Homo sapiens: one gene and its partners. The protein of the gene in region 2 purifies or fractionates together with the protein of the main gene of each other region. This does not show direct contact. Each region holds a gene or a part of one and is shown on either strand. Other genes may lie near its edges.

Region 1 (3,500 bases), on a different chromosome or scaffold from region 2:
GCTAATTTTTGTATTATTAGCAGAGACAGGGTTTTGCCACGTTGGCCAGGTTGGTCTTGAATTCCTGACCTCAAGTGATCCGCCTGCCTCGGCCTTCCAAAGTTCTGGGATTGCAGGTGTGAGCTACCATGCCTGGCCTATTCACTTTTTTTCTGTTTCCTTTGATCCTCTTGCCTATCCCGTCTGCCCTGAAACTTTCTTCTTGCCATGATTCTCTTTCATTGTGTCCCCCAACTCTGGAGATCCCCAGGTTGAGTCAGCCTCCTTCCCGGACTTCATATCCTCCTAAGAGTGGGCATGCCCCAAGGTTGTGCCATTGATCCTCGAATTATTTCACTGTATGCTTTCTCCTTAGGAGTCACCTGCTTTTATGACCTCCCTTTCACCTTTATGATCATGACCTCAGATCTTTTTCCAATCTAACCCCTTCACCTCTAAGTGCGTGGCCCATATCTTCAATTCATGTTCTGACATCTCCTCCTGAAATAAACTACCTTCATATAAAACTTGTCTTATACTGAGTTTCTCATGTTTCTCCCAAACCCCTTAACTAAGTTCATTGACAATACTTAACATCACAGAAAAGTTTGTGCCTTTTGACCTAATATTCTCACTCATGCTAATTAGCCCTAAGGGGAAAAAAAATTCTGAAGGTAAACACACACACACACACACACACACACACACACAGAGTCTATATACTCTGGAGCCAAATTTCCTGGATTTAAATCCATCTTTGTCACTTACTGTGTGATCCTGGGCAAATTACATAGCCTCTGTGGTGCTTTGGTTTTCTGATGTGTAAAGTTGGGACTATAATAATGCCTAATTTATAGGTCATTGTATAGATAAATGAATTATTATGTAAAGCACTTACAGTAGTACTGGTACAATTTAAGCACTATATAAATATTAGCCATTACATTGGGGCTTACTTTATAATATTTAATAACTGTGAAAAATCTAGAAGGATTATTTACATAAAATTTAGGTCAACTTGATGGAATATATGTAAGCGATTAAAGATCATGGCCGGGCACAGTGGTTCACACCTGTAATCCCAGAACTTTGGGAGGCTGAGGCGGGTGGATTGCTTGAGTACAGGAGTTTGAGACCCAGCCCGGGCAACATCTCTACAAAAATTAGCCAGGCACGGTGGCTCATGCCTATAATCCCAGCACTTTGGGAGGCCGAGGTGGGCGGATCACCTGAGGTCAGGAGTTTGAGACCAGCCTGACCAACATGGCAAAACCCCATCTCTACTAAAAATACAAAAATTAGCCAGGCGTGATGGTGGCCACCTATAATCCCAACTACTCGGGAGACTGAGGCAGGAGAATTGCTTGAACCCAGGAGGCGGAGGTTGCAGTGAGCTGAGATTGTGCCATTGCACTCCAGCCGGGGTGACAGAGCGAGACTCCCTCTCAAAAAAAAAAAAAAAAAAAATCGCGCCACTGCACTGCAGCCTGGGTGACAGAGCGAGACTCCATCTCAAAAAAAGAAAAAAAAAAAAACTCGTGCCACTGCACTCCAGACTGGACGACAGAGCGAGACTCCGTCTCAAAAAAAAAAAAAAAAAAAAAAAATTAGCCAGGCATCGTGGTACACATCTGTAGTCCCAGCTACTCAGGTGGCTGAGGTGAGAGGATCATTTGAGTCTGGGAGGTTGGGGCTGCAGTGAGCTGAGATCACACCACTGCACCCCAGCTTGGGTGACAGAGCAAGACCCTGTCTCAAAAAAAAAAAAAACAAAAACATAATTGTGAAGAGTATGGTAACATGGAAAATGTTTATGATGTATTTAAAAGTTATGATAATATTTTTGCACGGTAAGGTTAGGGAATGATGTCCTCCCCGTTATTGTTATAATTTTGTTTATGCAAAAATAAAAATCTCAGAAGAAAAGGGTTGCTCATCTAAATTTGCTTTTAGTATTACCATCACTCTTCCAGGTTTGAAATTTCAGTCATTCTTGACTTTATCTCTCTTTCCCCACCACCAGTCAAAATGTTTCTTAAATTCATTTCTTTATGATTTTATTACTGATACTGTGTCCTCCTAACCTTAAACCTAGACTATTGAATTAGTGTTCTGTTTGACTTGTTTCTTTTTTCCATTCCACCTTTGTGTAAACGGTGACCCAGGTCTCATCACAGACTAATTTTTCTAAGTTACTATTTTGTACCCATGATGTTTCTTGCTCAAAAATCTTCATTGCTCTTTGTTCTTTAGAGGTTGAACCCCAAACTCATTAGCTTGTTTTTTTTTTTGTTTTTTTTTTTGAGACAGAACCTGGCTCTTTTGCTCAGTCTGGAGTGCAGTGGCGCGATCTCAGCTCACTGCAACCTCCACCTTCCAGGTTTAAGCAGTTCTCCTGCCTCAGCCTCCCAAGTGGCAAAGGACTACAGGCGCACGCCACCACGCCTGGCTAATTTTTTGTATTTTTAGTAGAGACATGGTTTCACCATGTTAGCCAGATGGTCTCCATCTCCTGGCCTCGTGATCTGCCTGCCTCATCCTCCCAATAGCTTGGCGTTTTGTTTTGTTTTTTGAGACGGAGTTTCACATGTGTTGCCCAGGCTGGAGTGCAATGGCACGATCTCAGCTCACTGCAACCTCCACCTCCTGGTTCAAGCAATTCTCCTGCCTCAGCCTCTCAAGTAGCTGGGATTACAGGTGCCTGCCACCATGTCTAGGTAATTTTTTCTATTTTTAGTAGTGATGGGGTTTCACCATGTTGGCCAGGACGGTCTTGAATAATTCCTGCCCTCAAGTGATCCACCCACCTTGCCTTCCAAAGTGCTGGGATTACAGGCATGCGCTACTGCGCCCGGCCTAGCTTGGCATTTAAAACCTGCTGTGGTTGGCCCCTTTCTTAACTTTCCAATTTTGTATTTTAGCTACTCTCATTACTAAACGTGTAGTTCCAACCAAACAGTCTGTCTAGAGATCCTCTTCAAGTTCTGCCACCATGCCTTTGCTCACACTATTCTCTTGCTTGGATTTGCCTTACCCCTTCTTTCTGCTTATTCATGCCTTCCTCTTACTTCACTGTCCACCTTCTCTTGAGGCCTTTCTTGGCCGCTTGAGTTCTTACTGATTATTCCTGCCCTCTGAACTCCTGTAGTACCAATTGGATATAGCAGTTATTTATAATAACTTTGTTACTTGTCTGTCTATATCCTTTATTTACAAATAGACAGCTGTTTGAGGTCAGGGGTGAGTTTTTACTTCTGTGTTCATAGAACAGGACAATGCTGTCAGTATGTGGTGTGTGTGTGTGTGTGTGTGTGTGTGTGTGTGTGTGTGTGTGTTTTGTTTTGTTTTTTCAGACAGAGTTTCACTCTATTGCTGAGGCTGGAGTACATGGCATGATTTCAACTCACTGCAGCCTCAACCTTCCAGGGTCAAATGATCCTCCTGCCCCAGCCTCTGAGTAGCTGATGTGTACCACCACGCCCGGCTAATTTTTTTATTTTTTGTAGAGATAGGATTTTGTC
Region 2 (3,500 bases):
CCCAAGCCTTTCTTCAGGGATCCGTCCCCATGACCCAAACACTAGGCCCCACGAGAAGCACTGGGGATCACATTTCTTCATGAGGTTTGGAGGGTCAGATATGGAAACCATGGCATGTGAGCAGTAGGGAAGGCGACTCTTAGGCTTTTGCCTAAGTATCTGTGAGTGCCTGTTTTTTAGGAACATTTACTGAGAGCTTACTGTGCACCAGGCACAGTGCTTGCTAAGTACCTAAGTACAGTATCTGGTTAGTCCACATGACACGTATGCTACATGTCTACATGTCTACACGACTACTTAGTCTACATGACACGTACGGTGCCCATTTTACTGATGAGGAAACTGAGGCTTGAGAGGTTTAATCATTGGCCCAAAGTTACACAGCTTGTATGTGACTGAGCCAGGATTCAAAAGCCTGTCCTTTGAATGTGAGCTTTCACTCTGCCTGTGTAAGGCTATCCGTTACAGTCAGGAGACACCTTAGAATGACGTTAGAAATGATAGTTTCTAATGTACTGAATTGGAACTGGGTTTTTTGTACAGTGGCGTATGCTTTACATATGTGACGAAATCTGAACCTCACAGGAGTCTTAGATCCACTTTACTGATGAGGAAACAGGCACAAAAACAGATCACTTTCTTACTGCCTGTAGGTAGTGAGTGGTCAAGCTGGACTTCTATCCCAGCTCTGGTTCTTTTTTAGCTACCACACTAAGATGGGCCCAGTGTGCGTGCGTTCCGTAATGGTTCTGCAGGGCTGGATCTCAAGGCCCAGGCTCTTGGCCTTGGGGTGCCATTGGCTCATGAAGGAACGGGGCTGGTAGCACAGTCAGCCTCTATCTTTTAAAGACTTGGCCACCCCACACAGGTGTACTGGAAAGCTTCTATTATGCCTCTTACTTGTGCCTTTCCCACGTGATCTTATTTAAGCCTCGCCACAGTTGCTGGTGTGTGTGCTGCAGTTAAGCCTGTTGTCCAGGGAACAGAGGCCTAGAGGGTTAGCTCCCAAGGCTGCACAGCAGGTGCCTAGGGGAGCTGGTTTGGGGCCCTGGCAGCCTGACTTAAAAGCTGGTGCTCTCCAGGATATAACAGGCGAGTAATTGATACTTCTTAAAATGAGGAGGAAATGGTGCTCGGTTATCTCAGATGAATCTGACAGAATATGCGCTCTTTCATCCATAATTAAATGTGGATGTTGAAAGGAGATGTGCCTTCTTCCGAAAGATAGCTGGCCTGATCTCTTCCGACGTAATGCTGTCATGTTAAAAGAGGACCTTGTGGATGAAAGGCTACTCGGGAGACCTGGCCGCCCCCTGCAGCGCGTGCTGAGTGATTGGATCCCAGCTGCTTTCATGGCCGTTCTTCTTGGATGCTTGGGATAGTTTGTAGACCGCCTATTAGCTAATAATGGACCAATGTTGCCTTTCTTAGGTGTGGTAATTTCACTGCCGTTAAAAGAATGTCCTTATTTCCAGGAGATTCATGATGAAATTTTGGGGGTGAAATTGGTTGCTGGAGCTTATTTGTATGTAGATCACCCAGAAGTATTTTTTTTTAAGACCAAGTCTTATTCTCTTGTCCAGGCTGGGGTGCAGCGGTATGATCTCAGCTCACTGCAACCTCTGCCTCCTGGTTCAAGCTATTTTCCTGCCTCAGCCTCCTGAGTAGCTGGGACTACAGGTGTGAGCCACCACGCCTGGCTAATTTTTGTATTTTTAATAGAGACGGGGTTTCACCATGTTGGCCAGGTTGGTCTCGAACTCCTGACCTCAGGTGATCCACCTGCCTCGGCCTCCCAAAGTTCTGGGATTACAGGCGTGAGCCACCGCGCTCGGCCAGTATTTTTTATGTATAGAAAAAAGTGCTGAGGCTCCAAGTGAAGGGTAGAGAGGTGTGCATTTTGCAATTCAACTTTTCTATACATTTGGAATTTTTTTAAATGAAAGATAAGAAAATGTTCACTGATGAATGTATAAACTAAATATAGTATATCCATACAATGGCATATTTTTCAGCCATTAAAAAAGAAATGAAGTACTGATGAGCCTTGAAAACATTCGGCTGCATGAAGGAAGCCAGACACATAAGGCCCCAGTTGTGTGATTCCATTGATGTGGAATGCCCGGAAGAGGCGAGTCCACAGAGACTGGAAGTAGATTAAGGGTTGCCACGGGCCAGGAGAGGGGCGTGGGACTGACTTAAAGGGAACAGGAGTTCCTGTTGGTGTGATGAGAATGTGGACTTGGATGGCAGTGATGGCTGTACATCTCTGAATATACTAGACACTACTGAATTGTACACTTTTGAAGGGTGAATTTTATGGTATGTGAATCATAGTGAAAAAACATTTGAAGGGAAAAGTACCCTTATGCCAGGGTGCTTGCCCGTGACCAGGTGGCAGGTCCCCCTCCAGGTGCGGCTGCTTCATGGCAGGAGGCCTGGCTGGGGACCCTGAGGTGTGCAGGCCTGAAGTACACTCTGTTGTGCCCCAGGCGAGGGTTAATTTGTCCTGGTTTGGTCCTTTTCATTTAGAGGAAACCTGTTTGTATTTTTAAGGTGCTTTTTATGGTTCTTTGTCACTTACCTCTTCATCTCCCAGGTAGAGCCTCTGGGAAACATTCTGATAGGAGAGACAATGGGGTGAGGCTGCATAGCTTTGAGAAGGAGGCCTAGTTGGCTTCTGAAAGAGGATGTGTGAGCTGTGAGTCCAAGGGAGACGTATGTTCGTGTAAATCATGTCAGGCCGTATCTTCCCCCAGTGTTTCACCTTTTTCAAAGGTCACAATCGTTCTTGGTGGATGGATTATTTGAAATAGTGACCTGAAAGACGAAAATCTTATGTTACAGATGAAAAGAGCAAATGATGCATTTTTTTTTTTTCTAGAGGAAAAACTGACACCCCATTTTAAGGAATTCTTCTGTCAGCCAACTGTTTGGTATGCTGTACACAATTCTATTCTTTTAGCTTTTCTTCTCCAAATTGATTTTGGTGGTATCTTTTGGCCAGTCATGTGAAAACCTTGTTTACCCTTGGTAGGGCACGTAGCTGCAGCTCACACAGTGATGTCATGCAAACGATGGGCAGGAGGTTGTGGCCTGCTCGCCAGGGGCTGGGAAGCATGTGATGTCCCTTCACAGCAGCCAGGTTCCCTTGGTACAGAAATGCCTGCTGTGTGGTTATTTAGGGCTTAGTAATTTTGGCTTATAAAGTAATTTTGATGGATTACTCTTGGAGTTGGAATAAATTGACCACCACAATTACACAGGAAATGAGGATGAATGGCATTTTAAGGTTAGGATTTTCCCAGAGTAATCAAATGCTGATATTTTCATGCTTCATCTGAAGAGGACATAAGTCTGAGACTGTGGGAAGATATGTGCAGTGTCACTGTGGGTAACGGGAAGGCCCGAGTGAGACCGTGGGAAGGTGTGTGCAGTGTCACTGTGGGTAATGGGAAGGTCCGAGTACATTTCAGTTAGGAAATCATTTGTGCCTCTAT
Region 3 (3,500 bases), on a different chromosome or scaffold from region 2:
GGTTGGTAAGCTATTAATTATTGCCTCAATTTCAGAGCCTGTTATTGGTCTATTCAGAGATTCAACTTCTTCCTGGTTTAGTCTTGGGAGGGTGTATGTGTCAAGGAATTTATCCATTTCTTCTAGATTTTCTAGTTTATTTGTGTAGAGGTGTTTGTAGTATTCTCTGATGGTAGTTTGTATTTCTGTGGGATCGGTGGTGATATCCCCTTTTATCATTTTTTATTGCGTCTATTTGATTCTTCTCTCTTTTCTTCTTTATTAGTCTTGCTAGCAGTCTATCAATTTTGTTGATCTTTTCAAAAAACCAGCTCCTGGATTCATTGATTTCTTGAAGGGTTTTTTGTGTCTCTATCTCGTTCAGTTCTGCTCTGAGTTATTTCTTGCCTTCTGCTAGCTTTTGAATGTGTTTGCTCTTGTTCCTCTAGTTCTTTTAATTGTGATGTTAGGGTGTCAATTTTATATCTTTCCTGCTTCCTTTTGTGGGCATTTAGTGCTATAAATTTCCCTCTACACACTGCTTTAAATGTGTCCCAGAGATTCTGGTATGTTGTGTCTTTGTTCTCATTGGTTTCAAAGAACATGTTTATTTCTGCATTCATTTCGTTATGTACCCAGTAGTCATTCAGGAGCAGGTTGTTCAGTCTCCATGTAGCTGAGCAGTTTTGAGTGAGTTTCTTAATCTTGAGTTCTAATTTGATTTCACTGTGGTCTGAGAGACAGTTTGTTATAATTTCTGTTCTTTTACATTTGCTGAGGAGTGCTTTACTTCCAACTATGTGGTCAATTTTGGAATAAGTGCGATGTGGTGCTGAGAAGAATGTATATTCTGTTGATTTGGGGTGGAGAGTTCTGTAGATGTCTGTTAGGTCCGCTTGGTGCAGAGCTGAGTTCAATTCCTGGATATCCTTGTTAACTTTCTGTCTCATTGATCTGTCTAATGTTGACAGTGGGGTGTTAAAGTCTCCCTTTATTATTGTATGGGAGTCTAAGTCTCTTTGTAGGTCTCTAAGGACTTGCTTTATGAATCTGGGTCCTCCTGTATTGGGTGCATAAATATTTAGGATAGTTAGCTCTTCTTGTTGAATTGATCCCTTTACCATTATGTAATGGCCTTCTTTGTCTCTTTTGATCCTTGCTAGTTTAAAGTCTGTTTTATCAGAGACTAGGATTGCAACCCCTGCCTTTTTTTGTTTTCCATTTGCTTGGTAGATCTTCCTGCATCCCTTTATTTTGAGCCTATGTGTGTCTCTGCACATGAGATGGATTTCCTGAATACAGCACACTGATGGGTCTTTACTCTTTATCTAATTTGCCAGTCTGTGTCTTTTAATTGGAGCATTTAGCCCATTTACATTTAAGGTTGATACTGTTATGTGTGAATTTGATCCTGTCATTATGATGCTAGCTGGTTATTTTGCTCGTTAGTTGATGCAGTTTCTTCCTAGCCTTGATGGTCTTTACAATTTGGCATGTTTTTCCAGTGGCTGGTATGTGTTGTTCCTTTCCATGTTTAGTGCTTCCTTCAGGAGCTCTTGTAAGGCAGGCCTGGTGGTGACAAAATCTCTCAGCATTTGCTTGTCTGTAAAGGATTTTATTTTTCCTTCACCTATGAAGCTTAGTTTGGCTGGATATGAAATTCTGGGTTGAAAATTCTTTTCTTTAAGAATTTTGGATATTGGCCCCCACTCTCTTCTGGCTTGTAGAGTTTCTGCCGAGAGATCAGCTGTTAGTCTGATGGGCTTCCCTTTGTGGGTAACCCGACCTTTCTCTCTGGCTGCCCTTAACATTTTTTCCTTCATTTCAACTTTGGTGATCTGACAATTATGTGTCTCGGAGTTGCTCTTCTCGAGGAGTATCTTTGTGGCGTTCTCTGTATTTCCTGAATTTGAATGTTGGCCTGCCTTGCTAGGTTGGGGAAGTTCTCCTGGCTAATATCCTGCAGAGTGTTTTCCAACTTGGTTCCATTCTCCCCATCACTTTCAGGTACACCAATCAGACGTAGATTTGGTCTTTTCACATAGTCCCATATTTCTTGGAGGCTTTTTTCGTTTCTTTTTATTCTTTTTTCTCTAAACTTCTCTTCTCGCTTCATTTCATTCATTTGGTCTTCAATCACGGATACCCTTTCTTCCAGTTGTTCGAATCGGCTACTGAAGTTTGTGCATTCGTCACTTAGTTCTCGTGCCATGGTTTTCAGCTCCATCAGGTCATTTAAGGACTTGTCTACATTGGTTATTCTAGTTAGCCATTCATCTAATCTTTTTTTCAAGGTTTTTAGCTTCTTTGTGCTGGGTTCAAACTTCCTCCTTTAGCTCAGAGAAGTTTGATCATCTGAAGCCTTCTTTTCTCAACTCGTCAAAGTCATTCTCTGTCTACCTTTGTTCTGTTGCTGGTGAGGAGCTGCGTTCCTTTGGAGGAGGAGAGGCGCTCTGATTTTTAGAATTTTCAGTTTTTCTGCTGTTTTTTTCCCTATCTTTGTGGTTTTATCTACCTTTGGTCTTTGATGATGGTGACATACAGATGGGGTTTTTGTGTGGATGTCCTTTCTGTTTGTTAGTTTTCCTTCTAACAGTCAGGACCCTCAGCTGCAGGTCTGTTGGAGTTTGTCGGAGGGCCACTCCAGACCCTGTTTGCCTGGGTATCAGCAGCGGAGGCTGCAGAACAGTGAATATTGCTGAACACCAAATGTTGCTCTCTGATCGTTCCTCTGGAGGTTTTGTCTCAGAGGGGTACCCGCCGTGTGAGGTGTCAGTCTGCCTCTACTGGGGGGTACCTCCCAGTTAGGCTGCTTGGGGGTCAGGGACCCACTTGAGGAGGCAGTCTGTCTGTTCTCAGATCTCAAACTCTGTCCTGGGAGAACCACTACTCTCTTCAAAGCTGTCAGACAGGGACATTTAAGTTTGCAGAGGTTTCTGCTGCCTTTTGTTCAGCTATGCCCTGCCCCCAGAGGTGGAGTCTACAGAGGCAGGCAGGCCTCCTTGAGCTGTGGTGGGCTCCACCCAGTTCGAGCTTCCCGGCAGCTTTGTTTACCTACTCAAGCCTCAGCAATGGCGGGCGCCTCTCCTCCAGCCTCGCTGCCACCTTGCAGTTCAATCTCAGACTGCTGTGCTAGCAATGAGTGAGGCTCCGTGGGTGTGGGACCCTCTGAGCCAGGCGCGGGATATAATCTCCTGGTGTGCTGTTTGCTAAGACCGTTGGAAAAGCGCAGTATTAGGGTGGGAGTGATCCGATTTTCCAGGTGCCATCTGTCACAGCTTCCCTTGGCTAGGAAAGGGAATTCCCTGACCCCTTGTGCTTCCCGGGTGAGGCGATGTCTCGCCCTGCTTCGGCTCACGCTCGGTGGGCTGCACCCACTGTCCAACAAGCCCCAGTGAGATGAAGCCGGTATCTCAGTTGGAAATGCAGAAATCATCCGTCTTGTGCGTTGCTCACGCTGGGGGCTGTAGACTGGAGCTGTTCCTATTTGGCCATCTTGGAACAGGAATCAAAGGAAATTT
Region 4 (3,500 bases), on a different chromosome or scaffold from region 2:
AAACCTTTCTTAACCGCAAATTATTAAATTATTATTTTTTAATTTTTGGAGATTTTTTCCCCCCTGGAGATGGAGTCTCGCTCTGTTGCCCAGGCTGGAGTCCAGTGGCATGATCTTGGCTCACTGCAACCTCCGCCTCCCAAGTTCAAGTGATTCTCCTGCCTCAGCCTCCCTAGTAGCTGGGATTACAAGCATGTGCCACCACACCTGGCTAATGTTTTTATTTCTAGTAGAGGCAAAGTTTCACCATTTTGGCTAGGCTGGTCTCAAACTCCTGACCTCAAGTGATCCACCCACCTTGGGCTTCCAAAGTGATGGGATCACAGACGTGAGCCACTGCACCCGGCATTAGCTGCAAATTATATAAAAATATAGATCAAGTATTTTATATGGCAGTTTTAATTTAGCATCTGCATTGTAATGTTGTATAAACACCATATTTCAAAGACAGTATGAAAACAATGTAAAATACCTCAGCTTTTCATTATGATTACATGTTGAAATTATAATTGATTTCACCTTGTTTTCTTTTAGTGTGAACAATAGAAAATTTTAAATTACTTATGTCACTTTTACTGTATTGCTGCTGGACAGTACTTTGAGCTAGATGTTCCTATGTGTTTACCATGTCTTAATTTCTTCCTGCGTCTCTGACTTTTCTTTTGGAATCTTTTAACTTTTACTTTAGCACACTCAGTAGAAGTTTCATAATGCAGACATTCTGATGGTCAGTTCTCTTAATTTTTTTGCTTTGTCTTAATTTTTTGTTTTGCCTTCAATCTTGAAGAATGTTTTGGGGGATATTACAGATTTGTGGTTGTTTTACTTGTACCTTGAAGATAACATTTCACTGTTTTTGGTTTTCATTATTGATTTTGAGAAATCAGCTGTCAATGCATTAGGTTGGTACAAAAGAAATTGTGGTTTGGGACAGCGAATTTTAAATCATTATAACGAGGCTCTAACATATCTTTATTAATTAAAATAGGTCATTACAATCAACACATTTTTGCCGACAAGAAATAAGTTTGTTTTTTCCTGTAATGTAAAAATCCATGCTTCAGGATTCCACAAACTCTTGGAAAGCTTTTTCCTGCATCCTGCTGGTTGTGGAAGCATTTTCCCTGAAAAAAGTTGTAGAGATGCTTGAAGGAGTGGTAGTCAGTTGAGAGGTCAGGTGAATATGGCAGATGAGGCAAAACTTTGTAGCCCAGTTCGTTCAACTTTTGAAGTGTTGGTTGTGCAGTGTGCGGTTGGGTGTTACTGTGGAGAATTGGGCCCTTTCTGTTGACCCATGCTGGCTGCAGGCATCACAGTTTTAAGTGCATCTCATTGATTTGCTGAGCATACTTCTCAGATGTAATGGTTTCTCCAGGATTCAGAAAGCTGTAGTGGATCAGACCGGCAGCAGACCAGCAAACAGTTACCATGGCCTTTTTTGGTGCAAGTTTGGCTTTGGGAAGTGCTTTGGAGCTTCTTCGCGGTCCAGCCACTGAGCTGGTCATTGCTTGTCATATAAAATCTAGTTTTTGTTGCACCTCACAGTCCGATTGAGAAATGGTTCGTTGTTGTGGAGAATAAGAGAAGACAACACTTCAAAACGGTGTTTTTTTAAATTTTTGCTCAGCTGGTGAGGCACCCACTTATCGAGCTTTTTCACCTTTTCAATTTGCTTCAAATACTGAACAACTGTGGAATGGTTGACGTTGAGTTCTTACGTTGAGTTCTTCAGCAACTTCTCATGTAATTGTAAGAGGATCAATCTGCTTCAATGATTGCTCTCAATTGGTTGTTGTCAACTTCCAGTGGCCTGCCACTACACTCCTCATCCTCAAGGCTCTGGTATCTTTTGCAAAACTTCTTGAACCACCACTGCACTGTACGTTCATTAGCAGTTCCTGGGCCAAATGCATTGTTGATATTGCAAGTTGTCTCTGCTGTTTTACGACCCACTTTGAACTTAAATAAGAAAATCACTCAACTTTGCTTTTTGTCTAGCATCATTTCCATAGTCCAAAATAAATATAAACAGCAAGTAATAAGTCATTAGCCAAAAAAAAAAAGCAAGAAATGCCCATTAAAATGACATATAACATAACCACATTTATTTAAGAATGTATTCCAGGCCGGGTGTGGTGGCTCACACCTGTAATCCCAGCACTTTGGGAGGCTGAGGTGGGCGGATCACGAGGTCAGGAGATCGATACCATCCTGGCTAACATGGTGAGACCCTGTCTCTACTAAAAATACAAAAAATTAGCCAGGCGTGGTGGCGGGTGCCTGTAGTCCCAGCTACTCAGAAGGCTGAGGCAGGAGAATGGTGTGAACCCTGGAGGCAGAGCTTGCAGTGAGCCGAGATCGCGCCACTGCAGCCCAGCCTGGGCAACAGAGAGAGACTCCATCTCAAAAAAAAAAAAAAAAAAAAAAAAATTCCAATATCAAATGGCAAATTCCAACAATGCAAAAACCACAATTAATTTTGTACCAACCTAATAATTCATGCTGCTTTGAAGGAAATCTCTCTTTTAGAATTTTTTTTTGTTTGTTTCTTTTTTTGGTTGTAATTTTTCTGCTGTTTCACTCTAATCTTTTTGTGTGGAATTCTTTTCTTCTTTTTTTTTTTTCTCCTAGTCAAGTGTGGTTGTGGGGGTAGAGGAAATGTTCAATCATCGTGTGGCATTCTTTATCTTGCCCTGTATTCATCGAGATTATTAGATCAATGCATCAGTATCTTTTTAAAGATATTGGTGATATTCTTACTGTTTCTGGTTACCTGCTGAAAATTACAATCTTGCTTTTATTGGCCTAGTATAGTTGCTCCTTAGTATCTGCTGGAAATTGGTTTCAGAACCCCGTGCAGATACCACAATCCACAGGCAGCTCAAATTCCTTATATAACATGCCATCATGTTTGCATACGGCCTACACACATCCTCCCACGTATTTTAAATAATCTCTAGATTGCTTATGGTACCTAATACAATGTAGATGCTATGTAAATATTGTTATACTGTCATGGCTTTTTAAAAATTTCTATTATTTTTTATAGTCGTGTTTTTAAAAATATACATGTATTTTTAATCCTTGGTTGAGTGAATCTGTGGCTATGAAGGGCCGACTATATTCATAGTTCATTTGTTGTTTGTTGAAGATAATTCCAGTTTCTAAATTTTCTAAGTCTGTGTCTGCTAGCTTATGATATTTTTTTCTTGTGTGCCTTGAGTACCAGTTGTATTTAAAAAATTATAGGAATATATGAGTCCTAGAATAATAGTATCTTTTTTAAGAAGGTACATTTTTCTAGGAAAGGTCTCTAGGAGTGCTTTCAGTCCCAAGTCACTATTCATGTTCAAGAGTTGGGATTCCTTCTGTTATACACATGACATTAAGGAAGACTTTAAGATCATGAATTCTATTTTCCTTCAATTTCCTCTTATCCTAATGATGTTGTCCTTAAACTCTGAACATAAATTGGGTAGTTTATCTGAGTCCCCAGCTTT
Region 5 (3,500 bases), on a different chromosome or scaffold from region 2:
TTTCCTTTTCCATCTTCTAGAGGCTGCCTGCAGGCCTTGGCTTATGACCCCTCCTGCCATCTTTAAAACCAGCAGCTTTGGCTGGGCCCAGTGGCTCATGCCTATAATCCCAGCACTTTGAGAAGCCGAGGCAGGAGGATCTCCTTAATCCAGGAGTTTGAGACCAGCCTGGGCCACAAAGTGAGACCACGTCTCTACAAAAAATAGACAAACATTAGCCAGGTGTGGTGGTGCATGCCTGTAGTCCTAGCTACCTGGGAGGCGGAGGTGGGAGGGTCACGTGAGCCTGAGGAAGTGGAGGCTACAGTGAGCTGAGATCGCGTCAACACACTCCAGCCTGGCTGACAGAATGAGATCCTGTCTCAAAAAAAACAAAAAACAAAAAACGAAAACAAACAAAAACCCCCCAAAAACGCAAACCAGCTTCTTCTTGCTTCTGTGCTTCTGTTGTCACATCTCCTACCTCTGACACTGATCCTCCTGCCTTCCTTTTATAGGATCCTTGTGATCACATTGGGACCACCTTTAAAATCAGGACAATCTCCCCATGCCAAAATTACTAATTTAATCACATCTACAAAGTCCCTTCTACAACATATTCACAGTTTCCGGGGATTCGAATGTGGATGTTTCTGGGGGGTGGCCCACTGGTAACCAGTGTTATAAGTTTCTTATAAATCCTTCCAGATATATTTTATCTATAAATAAATAAATGCAAGTCCATAGACTTCCCCCACCCACTTTTTATACAAATGGCATCATTCCATATCAGTGCTCAGAGTTCTGTCTTCCTCTTTTTCTTTTCTTTTTAAGGCTACACAGAACCTATTAAATGGAAATACCCTAATTTATTTCACCTTTTTCCTGTCAGAGGACTTTTAAGCTCTTTCCAATGCTTTGCTTTATAATCCTTTGTGTTATAATGCTGCAATGAATAACCTTGTTTGTAGGATGATATTCAATTTAAAAACTCATTTTTCAGGCCAGGCATGATGGTTCATGCCTGAAATCTTGGCCCTTTGGGAGGCCGAGCCGGAAGGATCACTTGAGCTAGCCCAGGCAACACATAGAGACCCCATCTTTACAAAAAATATTGTAAGATTAGTGGGACATGGTGGCCTGCACCTATTTTGTCCCAGCTATTCGGGAGGTTGAGGCGGGAGGATTACTTGAGCCAGGGGGTGGAGGCTGCAGTGAACCATGATCACAGCCCTCACTGAACTCCAGCCTGGGCAACAGAGTGAGAACCCATCTCTAAATAAATAAATAAATAAATAAATAAATAAATAAATAAATAAATAATCTTGTTTTTCCGAATTTTGGGGGCACTATTTAAGATATTTTGAAACCTCACAGAGCTTTTTTGGGGAACTTGTTGCCTTGGAGATTAGCCTGTCCTGTCCCGCCCCCATGATCTGTACTTCCTCTTTCTCCCTCCTGGCTTCCTTAATTAAGCCTTGTGTGTACTTGCCAGCCCATGTCCATCACGCTCTGCCTTCAATTCTAGATGCTGTGCTGTGAATACACTTAAGTGGAGGCCGCATGCTTCCCAGGAGGGTGTGTATTTTCAGTGTTGTGTCTCATGATAGTATGAAAGGCTCTGGAGAGAATCACAGGCTTCCACAAACAGGCAAGGAGAAAAATGTTCCACAGACATGTTTCAGGGAAAACAGGCTTCCCAATCCTAGGCCGTGCTGGTCCATAATTGGATCAGGCTGACTCTCCTTCCCCTACACTGCTGGTGTAGACAGGGACAAGAATGAGAAGTCAGAGACACAGAGAAGCTGTGATTTGCTTGAGGTCACTAAAGTACTTAATGGCAGAGTTCAGACCTGACCTGAGGGGCAACAAAAGACACCCCCCTCAAATCCATGGGGAGCAGAGTCTAACTGAATCAGATCCCAGATTTCCTGGGGCTCTCACGGTGCCAGGTGTGTACACTGAGCTAGGATGGGTTTCCCAGGGTTCTGTGTGGTCACACAACTCAACAATACAGACCAGAAAGCAGTGGCAAGTAGGCTGAATTTGGCTGGTGGGTGTTTTCTGTTTGGCCTGCACAGTGTTTCTTTTAACGTTTTATTATAGGAAATTCAAACATGCAGAAGGAATTGTACCATCAACAACACACACCCATCACTCTGCTCCAACAATGATCAACTCAGGCCTATCTTGCTTCATCCTATACCCTCCCTCGCTTGCTTCCTTCCCACCCTCAGATATGTGGAAGCAAATCCAAAGATACCATTCCATTTCAAATATTTCATTTTGTATCTCTATAATATGGGAATTTGGGGGGTTTCAAGACAGGATTTCACTTTGTTGCCCAGGCTGGAGTACAGTGGTGTGATCATGGCTCACTGCAGCCTCCACCTCCCAGGCTCAAGGGATCCTCCCACCTCAGCCTCCCAAGTAACTAGAGTTAAAGGTGTGCACCACCACACCTAGCTATTTTTTTTTTATTTTTTGTAGAGATGGGGGTCCCATTACGTTGTTCAGGCTGGCCTCAAACTCCTGGGCTCAAGTGATCCTTCTGCCTCAGCCTCCCAAAGTGCTGGGATTATAGATGTGAGCCACTGTGCCCAGCCAGGAGCTTTTACATAATCCTTTTTGACAAATTTTCCCCCAAGAAATTAGAAAGTTTTATAGAAAAAAAAAATCCGGACTTCTGTCTTCTCTTAAAAATTTGGAAGCTCTGCCAATACTGGGCCCAGATGGCAATCACTGCTTAGCACGGAGTAGATGTTGACTTTTCAGATGAGGGGTGTGACATCTACTTTGCCACAGTCCCCACCACTCCCCCACCTGGCCATCTCACCCATACACATCACCTGCCTGGCTCCTTTAGGCATTTAATTTGTGTAGGAAATTGACCTAAAGGAGATATTAGAGAAGACATTAAAAACTTGAAGAATGTGAAAATCAGCCAGGAGATAGAACTGTGCTTTAATGCGGGTTATAGAACGACATTGGATATGAAGCATTTTGGGAATAAACTTTGAAAATTGGAAGTACCAGTTTGTGAATTTTGCTGAGAGAGATGAAGGTGGGGGGTGGGTGACAGTGGTGAAGCATCTCCTATGTGCCAGTCTCTTTTACCACAGGCTGTTTCTCACAAAATCATCAATCATATGCAGCAGGTGAAACACCTTCCTATTTTACAGATGAGGAAACTGAGGCACAGAGAGGTGAAATAGGCTTCCCAAGGTCACTCAGGTCATGAGCAGCAGAGCTAGGATTCAGACCTGGAGTTGGCCTGACTCTAAAACGATGCATGCCTCACCATGGCCCATCACTCCTTTAAAGAGCACCAGAAGAGAGAATTTGACAAAGTGGTTGCCCGTGGGGCCTGGGATGGGTGGGGAAACCACGCTAGGCCTCGGGGCTGCTGAGGGCCTGAGGGAAGGAATGGGGAGCCCGGGCACAGAAATAGAGGAGGGGGCTGCCCCACGGCTACAGAAGGCATCTGGGAAGACGCTCTGCTGAAGGTGGCCAGGAGGGCA
Region 6 (3,500 bases), on a different chromosome or scaffold from region 2:
AGAAGGTAGAGTGCACTTTGAGGAGTTTGTGGGCCAGGGTTAGCTCATCCCTCCCTGGGGTGGGGAGTGATCAGTTGGCAGCTGTGCCGGGAGAGGGAGCTGGTGGCCTGGGGCGCGGTGGTTGTGTATGAAGCTGGAGGCTTGGGCTCAGGGGAGACCTGAGCATGGGGAAGGAGCATCGTGAGCATGGTGGGAGTTGTGGCACTGTGGGGGGGGCTCATGGGGACCGTGTCCATCCTCCCTCCAGAATCTCCTGCTGTGTGTCCTAACTGTGGTAGTGACCACGTGGTTCTCCTCGCTGTGTCTCGGGGAACCCCCAACAGGGAGCGGAAACAGGGAGAGCAGTCTCTGGCTCCTTCTCCGTCTGCCAGCCCTGTCTGCCACCCTCCTGGCCATGGTGACCACCTTGACAGGGCCAAGAACAGCCCACCTCAGGCACCGAGCACCCGTGACCATGGTAGTTGGAGCCTCAGTCCCCGTGAGTATAGGCAAAACAAGACATAGATGAGTTTGGGGAAGGGAAGGGGCACTGATGGGGAGGTGGAGATGGAGCCCAGGGGCTGCCATGGGCAGGCTGATGCCCCCTCATTGCCCTCAGCCCCTGAGCGCTGTGGCCTCCGCTCTGTGGACCACCGACTCCGGCTCTTCCTGGATGTTGAGGTGTTCAGCGATGCCCAGGAGGAGTTCCAGTGCTGCCTCAAGGTCTGTGCTCCCTGACACTGCCCATGCCCCCAGCTGTCCAGGGTGCCCACTCGTTTCCATCACAGCCAACTGAGTCAGATCAAGCACTCTAGAGACCTGATCTGGCTTCTGGTTTCAACCCCAGCAGCTTCTTGCTGTGTGGCCGTGGACACATTCCCTGGTATTTGAGTCCCAGTTGTTGCCTGTCTGCAATGGAGATAACGATGCCTCCCTTACACAGTGGCGTGCGTCAGGGCTCATGTTGAAGCTGCCCAGCCCAGCACCTGGCACTCATCAATGGGGCCTCCTAGCATTATTATAAACACATGATGTCGTTAGGCCTTTGTTGAGCACCTGTTGTGCTAGACATTGAGGATCTACAGATCAATCTTGCCCTTGATCTTACAGTCTGGTGTGAGAAGCTGACAATGATTATGCAATATGCAAATGCTGTAATCGGGCTAAGGCCCTTGAAGGGGTGTCTAGTCCAGCTTGAGTGGGTCAAGGAACCTTCCTGGGAGGTGATGTCTAAGCTCAGTCTTGAAGGGTAAGTTAAGGAGTAGGGAGGAAAAGAATGTCTTAGGTAAAGGAAGCCGCAAATGCATGGAGGCCCGAGAGTGTCGCTGGTGGGGAGAACTGCCCAGGATGAGGGCACCTGGACATGCAGGGCGAGGGGCAGGGGTCCTGAGAGGACTCTGGGGGGCCGGCAGGGGCCAGGTCAGGAGCTGCCTCCTGTGTCTGCCAAGGAGTTTGGACTTGTTTCTGAGGGCCACTGGGAGCCACTGAAGGATTTGAAATGGGGCAGTGATGGTCAGTTTTGTGCCTTAGAATAGTTAGTCTGGCGGAGCGTGGAGGGGGTGAGGCGACAGGCAGGGAAGCCAGCTGCTGAGGCTCTGAGCGGGCAGGGGCTGCAAGGCAGAGAGCGGTGGTGGATGAAGAGGCTGTCGAGTGTGAGGGAAGCTCCATAGACTGGTGGGTGGGCAGTGGGAGGGTCAGGCCGAGGGTGCTGTCACCAGGAACTCGGCTTTCAGTCTGGCCCCACCTCCCCAGGCCTCTCATCAGGTTTCTCACCAACTTCCTCTTCCCCCAGGTGCCAGTGGCATTGGCAGGCCACACTGGGGAGTTCATGTGCCTTGTGGTTGTGTCTGACCGCAGGCTGTACCTGTTGAAGGTGACTGGGGAGATGCGGTGAGTGAGAGGGGAGATGCAGTGAGTAAGGGGGGAGATGGGGTGAGTTGGGGGGAGATGGGGGAGTGAGGGGGAAGATGGGGTGAGGGGGGAGATGGGGTGAGTGAGGGGGGAGATGGGGTGTTAAGGGGGGAGATGGGGTGAGTGAGGGGGGAGATGGGGTGAGAGAAGGGGGAGATTGGGTGAGTGAGGGGGAGGTGGGGTGAGTGAGGGGGGAGGTGGGGTGAGTGGGGGGGAGGTGGGGTGAGTGGGGGGGACGTGGGGTGAGTGAAGGGGGAGATGGGGTGAGTGGGGGGCGGAGATGGGGTGAGTGGGGGGCGGAGATGGGGTGAGTGAGGGGGGAGATGGGGTGAGTGAGGGGGAGATGGGGTGAGTGAGGGAGGAGATGGAATGAGGGGGAAGATGGGGTGTGGTGAGCGCACGGGGGTGATGCAGTGAGTGAGGCAGGTGCAGCTGGGGCAGGGCCTCTCTGGGACTCTCACTCCACTCTCATGCTTCTCCATTGCTCTGTCCCCTCTCTCCACAGTGAGCCTCCAGCTAGCTGGCTGCAGCTGACCCTGGCTGTTCCCCTGCAGGATCTGAGTGGCATAGAGCTGGGCCTGGCAGGCCAGAGCCTGCGGCTAGAGTGGGCAGCTGGGGCGGGCCGCTGTGTGCTGCTGCCCCGAGATGCCAGGCATTGCCGGGCCTTCCTAGAGGAGCTCCTTGGTGAGAGAGGGGAGGGGAAGGCAGGAGGGTGGGCAGGAGGGTGGGCAGGGCCTTGGGGCCAGGCTCCCCACCTGGTACCCAGTAGCGGAGACAGAGAGGTAACAGGACTTGTCCCTTGTAGAAGTTTCTGAAATCCAGAAATGTGGAGAATAGGAAGGGATTGAGAGGTGGTGAGTTTAGGCTGGAGGAGAGCAGAGCCTTCTAAAGTTCCCTGGCCTGCCTCTGTCTAGATGTCTTGCAGTCTCTGCCCCCTGCCTGGAGGAACTGTGTCAGTGCCACAGAGGAGGAGGTCACCCCCCAGCACCGGCTCTGGTGAGTCGATAGGAGGCAGAGGCTGGGGTTGCTGCCCAATCCTCTTTCCACAGAGCCCCAGACATGGCCCTGTGCTGAGTAGGTCCTGGGCAGCCACCTGTCCTCATGCCATGCCCCTTATGGGCCCCTAGTGTCTCCTCCCAACCCCCTGCAGGGCTTTCTTCCCACTCCCCTCTCTTCAAGTCCTTCCCACCCGCTAGCTGATCTTCCTGTGCCTGCCATATTCCCTCTAGGCCATTGCTGGAAAAAGACTCATCCTTGGAGGCTCGCCAGTTCTTCTACCTTCGGGCGTTCCTGGTTGAAGGTGAAGCCTCTGTGCAGCTGATGCTTCCCTGGTCTCTGTACCCTACCTTGTCACAGGCACTGGCCCACGCGCAGCACCTGTACAGTGCCCTTGCAGCAACTGTCAGTTCCTGGAACCTGGAGAACCTCTCACTTGAGGGCATAGCTGAGTAACAGCCTCAGTGTGCCCTGACCCTCTGGGTGGGGTTAGGAGGCACCCAGGATCCTCAGTTACCCAGAGCCTTTGCTCTCGGGCCCAGGCTTTCTATGAAGTGGAGCAGCGTGGCTGAGTCGGCCCTGCCTCATCAGTCACAGAAGGAGAGGGTGGAGCC
Region 7 (3,145 bases), on a different chromosome or scaffold from region 2:
TGGGCATCCTCGTCTTCTCACTGCACTGCCCCAGTGTGCCCATGGCGGGCGTCACAGCCAGCTACGGCGGGAGGTGAGGGCCAGATGGCACCTGGGTACGCGTCGGGGCCCCAAGCACCCGCGGTCCCTGGGCATGGAGGAGGAGTGGTGCAGCACTTGGGAGAGGTGGTTTTGAAAAGGGCTACGTCACAGGACAGCGGCAAGGGCAACACCCGCTCAGCAGGGCACCCGGCAGCATCCACGTGAAAAGGCACCATGCCAGCCCCCAGCAGTGCCTGCGCTTGGGTCCCGGCTGTGCCCCCGGGCAGTCATATGCCTCTCTGGGCCTCAGCACTCTGCTCTGTAGCTGTGTCAAATGGAACAACAGCCCTAGTGTTCGGGGTCCTTGAGGCTGGTCTCTCGGTGACATAAAAAGTGTCCCAGGATGTGCTCCTGGAGTTGCCATGTGCTGGGAGTGGGAGGGACACCTGCTGGTCAGGTGGCAATTAGGGAATATCCAAAATACACGTAGGTAGCCTGCACCTCGGCCCTGCCCTGCGGGCCCCGGGAGTGCACCTGCAGGTGCCGTGCAAGGCCGAGAAGCACAAAGCAGCCGTTGTGGCATTATCGGAACCTAAGAGTCATCAGGGTGGACGGGGTCACTACGCTGTCCTCACAACAGAGGCCCTGCCCACAAAGGAGTGGAGGAAGCTCATCCTGGGCCACTGCCAAGACATACTGTGAAGTGGGAAAAAGGAAGGAGTTGGACAATGGGCGCAGTGTGCTCTGATTCAAGTGAGAAGTGCAGATGTTTGTGACTGCCGAGGGGCGTGTACGTGCAGACGACCCCTGCAAATGCACAGCCGGCCTGTGGCTGGAGAACCGAGGACTGGGGTGGGGCTGGGGCCACGAGGCTGCCTTTGTGTACTTGGCGCTTTTTCTTTCCTAATGTTTGTATTTGATCCATATGAATGTGTTGCCTGTCCAAAAACAAATGAACTAGGGAAAGGGGCTGTGCATCAGGCGGACGGTGCTGGGGGGCATGGGTGTGCCTTCCTTGCGTGAGGAGGAAAAACCATTCTATCACCAGAAGGCAGTGCCCAGTGTGAGTGCCCAGCGTGCTGGGGGCGGTGCAAGCTTGGCAAGTTTGTAGACCCGAAATGCAGGCTGCATGGGGACGAGCCCCATGGCTGACCCTGTGCCTGCTGGGCGCCAGCATGGCTCTGGCCTGGACCCTACCACTCGCTTGTCCCCCCTCTGCAGCCTCCTGCCCGAAGGCCACCTGAACCTAACGGCTCCCTGCAACGCTGCCTGCAGCTGCCAGCCAGAACACTACAGCCCTGTGTGCGGCTCGGACGGCCTCATGTACTTCTCACTGTGCCACGCAGGGTGCCCTGCAGCCACGGAGACGAATGTGGACGGCCAGAAGGTGAGTGGAGCCGCTGCCTACCGCCCCTGTCCTCCCCTGGACCCTGGGAAGGGGCCCCCGTGCCTTCCCCTTGTAATCGGAGCTATTGTTGGGCTTCCCAGGTGTACCGAGACTGTAGCTGTATCCCTCAGAATCTTTCCTCTGGTTTTGGCCATGCCACTGCAGGGAAATGCACTTCAACTTGTCAGAGAAAGCCCCTCCTTCTGGTTTTCATATTCGTTGTAATTTTCTTTACATTCCTCAGCAGCATTCCTGCACTAACGGCAACTCTACGGTAAGCTGGGGTCGGGTGTGCGCTTGTCCAGAGCTTTCCTTGCAGCACCCTGAGGCGGAGCTCTGCAGATCCTGAGACAGGAGCACTCCAGGAAACACCCAGGTCTAAGCGGGCCTGTCTGTCACTGGTGGCAGGAGAGACCTCACTGTCTCTGATCTCTGACGAGGGGCTTCCCACTTGGGGGGGGGTGATGATGTGGCTGGGGACTGGTCCAGGAGGCCACTGGCCTAGGGGGTGACTTGGCATGCAACCCCACTTCTGTGGGTGCTGACGCTGTGGTTTTCTATTGCAGATGTGTCCGTGACCCTCAGAGATCCTTTGCCCTGGGAATCCAGTGGATTGTAGTTAGAATACTAGGTACTGTGCAGTGTGAGGAAGCCATGGTCAGTTGCACAGTGTGCTCACTGCACAAGGGCATGGGCAAGTGTCTAACCACCAAGGGGATGTGCTTCCCAGCAGGAGGCTGTTCCCGCCTGGGAAGGGGTCCATTCCCTAACTGTCCACTAGAGGGGCCCATCGTCATTTATTTGCCCAAAGGCTTTCCCTGGGAGATCATGGGAAACTCGCAGCCCCAATGCCGAATGCCCAAAGAAAGGAACGTTTAAGCCCTCTTTGCACCCCCTGAGAACTCCAACGGCCAGTATCACCTTCCCAGAGCCCATCATTCCAGGCCTCTTGGCTGCCTGCCCCCTGCCTAGCCCCTACCCACCAGGAGTGTGGGTGCTGAGTGGGCTTCTCTCCGCAGGGGGCATCCCGGGGCCCATCGCCTTCGGCTGGGTGATCGACAAGGCCTGTCTGCTGTGGCAGGACCAGTGTGGCCAGCAGGGCTCCTGCTTGGTGTACCAGAATTCGGCCATGAGCCGCTACATACTCATCATGGGGCTCCTGTACAAGGTAAGCAGGCCCAGGGAGGGGACAGAGGGTCTGCTCTGAGGGTGGCTGGGGGCTCCGAACATGCCGCGATCTTCCAGCAGCTTGGACCACAGCCTAGTACATCACAGATGTTCCTGCAGCCAGTTTGTAGAAGGCCCTTCCCACATTCCTCATGAGTTGGTTGTGGGGAGAGGCAGGTGGGCTGCAGGGCCTCCTCCTGGGGTTCACTGTCCAGGCCCCCAGCAGCTCCAGCAAAGCCCAGGCCCAGGCCCTGCTCCCTCTCCCACCTCCTGGGACTGCCCCTCCACAGTGTGGTCTTGCACGTACCCGGGATGCCCGTTAACTAAAAGCTTTGCAGAAATAAGAAGTGGCTGCTCCTGTTAGAGCGGCTTGACTAGCTGGTCCACTCCGGGCCTCAGTCTGGGGGGCTGGCGGGCAGGTTGCAGCCTCTCCGTGATCAGTGCGCCTTGGATTCCATTGGATCTCTTAGTCTGGCCCTCATTTTTCAAGCTAACAGAAACTTTCTGTTGTGACTTTTGGCGTATGCTACCTGGGAGGAAACGCAGTATTTGTGTTTGGAATTTGCCCCC

The links.
Region 1: the proteins of SLC15A4 (region 2) and STX12 purify together in Homo sapiens (affinity purification with mass spectrometry; one large-scale study listed by BioGRID and IntAct). This does not show direct contact.
Region 3: the proteins of SLC15A4 (region 2) and VAMP7 purify together in Homo sapiens (affinity purification with mass spectrometry; one large-scale study listed by BioGRID and IntAct). This does not show direct contact.
Region 4: the proteins of SLC15A4 (region 2) and ORC4 purify together in Homo sapiens (affinity purification with mass spectrometry; one large-scale study listed by BioGRID and IntAct). This does not show direct contact.
Region 5: the proteins of SLC15A4 (region 2) and LGALS9 purify together in Homo sapiens (affinity purification with mass spectrometry; 2 studies listed by BioGRID and IntAct, with this or other methods). This does not show direct contact.
Region 6: the proteins of SLC15A4 (region 2) and STK11IP purify together in Homo sapiens (affinity purification with mass spectrometry; one large-scale study listed by BioGRID and IntAct). This does not show direct contact.
Region 7: the proteins of SLC15A4 (region 2) and SLCO4A1 fractionate together in Homo sapiens (co-fractionation; one large-scale study listed by BioGRID). This does not show direct contact.

Annotation. Positions count from the first base shown.
Region 1 is NC_000001.11:27,797,219-27,800,718, forward strand, and holds part of STX12 (syntaxin-12), read left to right. Parts: intron 1-3,500. UniProt on the Homo sapiens protein: SNARE promoting fusion of transport vesicles with target membranes. Together with SNARE STX6, promotes movement of vesicles from endosomes to the cell membrane, and may therefore function in the endocytic recycling pathway.
Region 2 is NC_000012.12:128,817,459-128,820,958, reverse strand, and holds part of SLC15A4 (solute carrier family 15 member 4), read left to right. Parts: intron 1-951; exon of another isoform or gene 952-3,500. UniProt on the Homo sapiens protein: Proton-coupled amino-acid transporter that mediates the transmembrane transport of L-histidine and some di- and tripeptides from inside the lysosome to the cytosol, and plays a key role in innate immune response.
Region 3 is NC_000023.11:155,933,345-155,936,844, forward strand, and holds part of VAMP7 (vesicle-associated membrane protein 7), read left to right. Parts: intron 1-3,500. UniProt on the Homo sapiens protein: Involved in the targeting and/or fusion of transport vesicles to their target membrane during transport of proteins from the early endosome to the lysosome. Required for heterotypic fusion of late endosomes with lysosomes and homotypic lysosomal fusion.
Region 4 is NC_000002.12:148,014,238-148,017,737, reverse strand, and holds part of ORC4 (origin recognition complex subunit 4), read left to right. Parts: intron 1-3,500. UniProt on the Homo sapiens protein: Component of the origin recognition complex (ORC) that binds origins of replication. DNA-binding is ATP-dependent. The specific DNA sequences that define origins of replication have not been identified yet.
Region 5 is NC_000017.11:27,634,188-27,637,687, forward strand, and holds part of LGALS9 (galectin-9), read left to right. Parts: intron 1-3,500. UniProt on the Homo sapiens protein: Binds galactosides. Has high affinity for the Forssman pentasaccharide. Ligand for HAVCR2/TIM3. Binding to HAVCR2 induces T-helper type 1 lymphocyte (Th1) death.
Region 6 is NC_000002.12:219,611,357-219,614,856, forward strand, and holds part of STK11IP (serine/threonine-protein kinase 11-interacting protein), read left to right. Parts: exon of another isoform or gene 1-5; intron 6-247; coding exon 248-478; intron 479-598; coding exon 599-702; intron 703-1,771; coding exon 1,772-1,869; intron 1,870-2,395; coding exon 2,396-2,574; intron 2,575-2,804; coding exon 2,805-2,886; intron 2,887-3,119; coding exon 3,120-3,190; coding exon of another isoform or gene 3,191-3,333; exon of another isoform or gene 3,334-3,500. UniProt on the Homo sapiens protein: May regulate STK11/LKB1 function by controlling its subcellular localization.
Region 7 is NC_000020.11:62,666,503-62,669,647, forward strand, and holds part of SLCO4A1 (solute carrier organic anion transporter family member 4A1), read left to right. Parts: coding exon 1-73; exon of another isoform or gene 74-119; intron 120-1,242; coding exon 1,243-1,408; intron 1,409-1,509; coding exon 1,510-1,682; intron 1,683-1,974; coding exon 1,975-2,039; intron 2,040-2,427; coding exon 2,428-2,576; intron 2,577-3,145. UniProt on the Homo sapiens protein: Organic anion antiporter with apparent broad substrate specificity.